2 separate regions of the Homo sapiens genome follow, and region 2 is linked to region 1. Evidence: fine-mapped expression QTL. A gene starts in region 1. The other region holds a variant in brackets. All regions are shown on one strand. Distances are from middle to middle.

Region 1 (2,917 bases):
ATTTCAGGAAGAGCTCTCTGGCTTCTGGGTGGAGAATGGCCAGTGGGGTAAGTGGTGAGAGGAAAGACAGAGAACGGAGAAGGTTAGATGGGCTTGGGAAATTATCCAGGCCCTGGATGGAGGTAGAGATGTGTGCTCATGAACACGGAGGGGATTACTGATGTGGGGTGGATGAGACTGTCGTCAAGAGTGTGGGACAGGAAGAGAGGGAGAGTCTTGGCCAGATCCAAGAAAGGAGCCCTCAGAAGAGGAGGGGAGTCAGAGGCAAGGAAGGGGCTGAGGCAGCCAGCCCAGCTGAGTGGACCCCAGGAGAGGTATCAAGGGGTGGTGTGGGGTGGGGAGGGGCCAGTGTCAGAAAGTGGATGGGGAGCGGCCTGACTCTGCTTTTGTCCTGTGGCCTTCTGGCCAAAGGCAGGGAAAGGTGGCCAAACACTGAGACCAAGAACAAAGAAAGAAAACTGCTGGTGGACTTCTTCCACCATGAGCAGGCCACCAAGCCCGCAGCACTGCACTGCAGCCCCCAGCTCTGTCCTGGGGTTGGGGGAGGTGAGGAGGGGCAAGGTGGGGAGCACACAGAGCACCCGCTGTCCTCGGAACACCACAGCGACTAGAGGTAAGGGAGCACCGGATGTGGCTGGGATGTGGGCAGCAAGGGGCCAGAGGGGCCTTGAAGGGGTCACAGACCATTTAATGAAGGTGTATTGAAGGCCACCATGGGCCAGGCCCTAGTTAGGGATGGATCAGAATTATATAGCATATGCCAGGGGTCAGGCAGGTAATGAAGTGATCGGAAGGTGATGAGGCAGTGGCAGTTGAGATTCACGTTGCAGTCGCCCCAAGCTGGCCAGGCCAGGGAGCAGAAGCATGGCTGGATGCCGGAGCCCACCAGGCTCCCCACTGCAGGGCAAGAGTGGCAGGGGGAGAGACTGTGAAAGGAGCATAGGCCAGGTCCTGGGTGAAAGCTGTGTCCTCAGCCTTGACTGATGGGTATAGGGAGCCACTAAATGCCTTGGGGCAGAGAGGTGAGGAAAAAAATATTTACCGAGCATCTACAAGGTGCAAGGTACTCACTAGATGCCTTCAGTACCAAAGCTTCTCAAACTTAGTATGCATATCACTCTTCTAAGAATTTCATTAAAATGCAGATTCTAATTCAGCAGATATAGGGCAGGGCTTGAGGTGCTGTCTTTAATAAGCTCCCAGTGCCTGGGACTGCACTTTGAGGAGAAGAGCTGTGTGTGCCCCAGTGTGGTCCAGTGAGTACTCTGGGCTCCCTCTCGTGGGCAGGGAAGCTGAGGGCCCCATGAGCTCTCCCAGCTTCCTGAAGGCTCCCCATTAATGAGAGCTGACTGTGCTGTGCTTTGCTGACTGCAGGGCCTGCTCCCTGCCCCCCACCTCCAGGTTGGGGTAAGTGGCACCTCTCTCCCTCCAGCTCCGCAGTCTTCCCTGAGGTTTAGATCTTCCAGGTTTATAAAGTCAGGCCCTCCTGTTGGCAGCTGGCCTCCACCCTGGAGTATCTGAGCTTGCCTGTGGCAGCATCTAAAGATAGTCTCCCTTACAGGAAACAAGATACTATTGGCTAACTCTGCAAATAAAATGCTCTTAGAGGGAAGGAAAGGGAAATACTCGTCTCTGGTAAAGTCTGAGCAGGACAGGGTGGCTGACTGGCAGATCCAGAGGTTCCCTTGGCAGTCCACGCCAGGTAGGTGCACAGGACTAGTTGGGTACCTGTGGGTGGGGTGGAGCAGTGGACAGCTAATAGGTTAATAATGCCTGTTTGCTTACGTGCAGACAATGGAAACCATTTTCCTGGGGATGTTGTAGCCTAAATATGTCCAAGGGGATGGAAGAGTGGGAGGCAAGGGGTGATCAGATCATTTATAATACACTCAACCTGGTGGAATAGTATTAGAAGCATTAGTAATTACATTTTAGAGACATGGAGAAAAGCTCATGATTTTAAACTAACTGAAAAAAGCATGAAAAATTGCATCTGGATGCTGTTGAGGAATTATTGCTAATTTTTTGAGATGAGAAATTGTATTAAAGTCTTTTTCAAAAAAGAGTCCTTAACTTTTAGAGATGCACACAAGTGTTTATGGGTGAAATTAAATAATTCAGTAGAGACATTAAGTGGGAAATAGAGGAAATATTGACCATGGGTTGCTAATAGTTGAAGCCAGGTGTTGGGTATAAGGAGGTTCTCGCTGCTTTTATTTGAAAAGTTGCTTTTTATTTGAAAATTTAATAATAAAGAGTTTTTAAATTTGTATCTGTATTTTAATATAAATATAAATGCACTTAATATAAATATAAAATATGTATAACATTTAGATAGAGAAAAGCTAAAAGATTACTGTGGTTGATTCTAGGAAACTGCATTGCAGATAGTTTCATGGGTTTTTTTTTCCTTTTTCTTCCACTTTTTGTACCATCTATGGGTTTTTGTTTGTTTTTTGTTTTTTGGGTTTTCTTTCTTGTTTGTGTTTTGTTTTTTGAGACGGAGTTTTGCTCTTGTTGCCTAAGCTGGAGTGCAATGGCACAGTCTCGGCTCACTGCAACCTCTGCCTCCTGGGTTCAAGTGATTCTCCTGCCTCAGCCTCCCAAGTAGCTGGGATTATAGGCATGTACCACCGCCCGGCTAATTTTGTATTTTTAGTAGAGGCGGGGTTTCTCCATTAATAAATTCCTGGCACAAATTTAGTGTTCAATTTTGATATATGTTGTTATAACCATTGTGAGGATACTCAGGCTCAGGTTTGTGTGGGTGGAAAACATGGTCTTCAGAAAGAAATTATGAGTGCAAGACAGGAGGAAATCCATCAGAGGCCCCAGCTGAGGACTGACCACGGCTTGTTATTTCTCTTGCCTTGCCTCTGGCAATCACAGCCTCACAGAGCCTGCAATCCTTGCTTTG
Region 2 (2,917 bases), 24 kb after region 1:
CCTACAGTCTGTGCTGTCTCAGTAAATGACAACTTTATTCTTCCAGTTGCTCTGGTCAAAACCTCGGAGTCATCCTAGATGATCCACTTTCCCTGGCACTCCATGTAGGGCAAAACCTACAGTGGTTTCTTTTTTAAAATAGCTCTACAGGCCGGGCGCAGTGGCTCAAGCCTGTAATCTCAGCACTTTGGGAGGCCGAGCCAGGTGGATCACGAGGTCAGGAGATTGAGACCATCCCGGCTAACACGGTGAAACCCTGTCTCTACTAAAAATACAAAAAATCAGCCGGGCATGGTGGCAGGCACCTGTAGTCCCAGCTACTCGGGAGGCTGAGGCAGCAGAATGGCGTGAACCCGGGAGGCGGAGGTTGCAGAGCCAAGATTGCGCCACTGTACTCCAACCTGGGTGACAGAGCGAGACTCCATCTCAAAAAAAAAAAAAAGCTCTAGCCTGTAGAATGCAGTTTCCTCCCCTATTCTCACAACGTGGTTTCAGTCTTAGTCTGCGGCATTATTGAGCATTTTCATCTTTTCCTATGTATTAATTAGCATTTTAATAAAATATTGGAAAGGGCTGCCCAGGGGCTGTTAGCCAGATGCCATTTAAACCTGAAAGTCAAGAAAATGACTTTTATTTACAACATATTTATCATGGTCGTTAATGTAAACTGATCAGAGGCAGCAGAGCCAACACTGCATTAATTCATCAGTACTCCAAGTACAGGCAGATAGATATAGGCTGGAGAAAATAATACGCAATTGATGCCCATGCCAACTCCTTGGAGTACTGATCACACTCCATTTGGCTACTTCGTAAGGGCATCCAGGTATTTTACCTGTGGTGGCATGAACTGCTAAGACAGTACCAAAACCTTATACCAGGAAGCATTTTTTTTTAATGCTCAGTCTAGGGATGGTGTAATTGCAGCAATTAAGAGTTGAGAGTATCTTTGAAATCTCCTGTATATTTACTGGCAAAAAAGAATTGAAAAAACCATGTGTAAATCCTAAATACAGTGTCAGAGCAACCTTGAGAGAAGTAAGGAGCCCAGGTTATCAACCTTTAGCCTGGTCACTTTTGGCCACTCCCAGGCTGAGGGAACACCTGCCCCAGACTACTCTCTTCCTCCAAGTATTACAGGTGCCATCTGTGGAGTCCAGACTCCCCAACTGTACCATCTTCAGTGAGACCAACAGGGCCCTGAGGCCATTTTGCCACGTTCTTGCCTACAAGGTTCTGTCCTGGCCCCTCCTCAGACCCTGTCTCTGAAGCTGATGAGCCTGAACTTGAAGGTTAGACATCCACGCTCTGAGAGTGTTGGTCTTTGGAAATTACTTAACTGCCTCAGGCCTTATTACTCAGAAAAACGGGGTGGCAATGTCTATATTCAGGGTTGAGGAGAAAATGAGAGATTGCAGTGAAAGCATCTAGCACAGTGTATTGCCCACAGCAGAGGATTTGAATAGGCTCACTTCCCTTTTCTTCTGTTTGTTGCCCCAAAGGACACAGCTAGCTTCCCCAAAGTTAAGGGGCCCTCCCCGAGGCCCTACTGCTCCCTCTACCACAGTCGAGTGGACCAGCTCATTTGCATTCTTTCCTGATACACCACAATGTCAGCTTTGCTGTTGGTGATTTTACAGGAAGCTTTCCTTGCCCCATGTGTAA[C/T]CCTTCTATAGCCTGCAACCCAATGTCCCTGGCCTGTCTTTCACCTTGAGGTGAGCTCATGCTCCTCCAGCCTTTGTCTCCCATCTTTTGTGCATGAAACAGCATGGTGGCCTTAACTCTAGTGTCTAGAAACCTTCCCATGGACTCCTCACTTCTCTTCCCTCTTCAGGAGAAGAATGAGATGAAGATTTGTAGCCTGAGGCCTCATGCACACAGGTATCCCCAGGAATGCCTAAGCAGCATACGCAGATTTAAACCTATCTTGGGGCTGAAGCAGGACCTAAAGTTATATGTACTTTTTCGTCAACACAGTTTTGCACAGAAGCAGAATATGAAGGATGCAGAGTTGAGGAGGCAAGAGGTGTCATTCTGCTCTGTGATGAACCTGAGTGGGCCCTTCAAAATACATGGCTTCTGGCTTTAGTGGCATGTGCTGGGTAAATTCAGCTGCTGCTATTCAGATGGCACAAAATATTACTAAAGTACTAAAGGCTTGTTGGGGTGAAATTAATGCAGCAAGAAAAATAGTGATTAAGTTTTCACTGGTAAAATTTTGACATTTGGCTGAGTAGGAGATAACTTGAAGTTGTAGGAGTAGCTATAGTTAGCAGTGCACTGGTATTTGTGGACTATATTTAAACATGTCTAAAAAAGGATGCACTTCTTTGGTATTTATGACTCATCTTTATAGGATGAATCATTTGCATGAATTAAATTTATCTCTTAAATCTAAAACCACAATTTGCTATTTTTTTCCTAATAAAAGAATAGTTTCTTAGACCATTTGTGCTGCTATAACAGAATACCATAGAGTGGGATATTTAAAAAGAACAAAAATTTGGCAGGGCGCTGTGGCTCATGCCTATAATCCCAACACTTTGGGAGGCTGAGGCAGGCGGATCACAAGGTCAGGAGATCGAGACCATCCTGGCTAACACAGTGAAACCCCGTCTCTACTAAAAATACAAAAAATTAGCCGGGCGTGGTGGTGGGCACCTGTAGTCCCAGCTACTTGGGAGGTTGAGGCAGGAGAATGGCATGAACCCGGGAGGCGAAGCTTGCAGTGAGCCGAGATTGTGCCACTGCACTCCAGCCTGGGCGACAGAGCGAGACTCTGTCTCAAAATAATAATAATACTAATAATAATAAAATAAAAAAATAAATAAAAAGAACAAAAATTTATTTCTCACAGTTCTGGAGGCTGAGAATTCCAAGACAAGGCATGAGCATTTGGTCTGATGAGGGCCTTCTT

What was found.
Region 2: its variant is fine-mapped to the expression of CX3CR1 in whole blood (TOPMed, PIP above 0.99).

Annotation. Positions count from the first base shown.
Region 1 is chr3:39,278,739-39,281,655 of GRCh38, reverse strand. It overlaps CX3CR1 (C-X3-C motif chemokine receptor 1), which reads left to right and starts at 1,620. Exons shown (of 2, transcript NM_001337.4): 1 at 1,620-1,702.
Region 2 is chr3:39,254,383-39,257,299 of GRCh38, reverse strand. The region is part of intron 2 of LOC102724104 (a long non-coding RNA gene); the gene reads right to left. Among named protein-coding and RNA genes, the nearest start is that of CX3CR1, 24 kb to the left of the region's middle. RefSeq lists a silencer at 280-329 and an enhancer at 1,111-1,350. The variant C/T (reference allele first, on the strand shown) is at 1,666.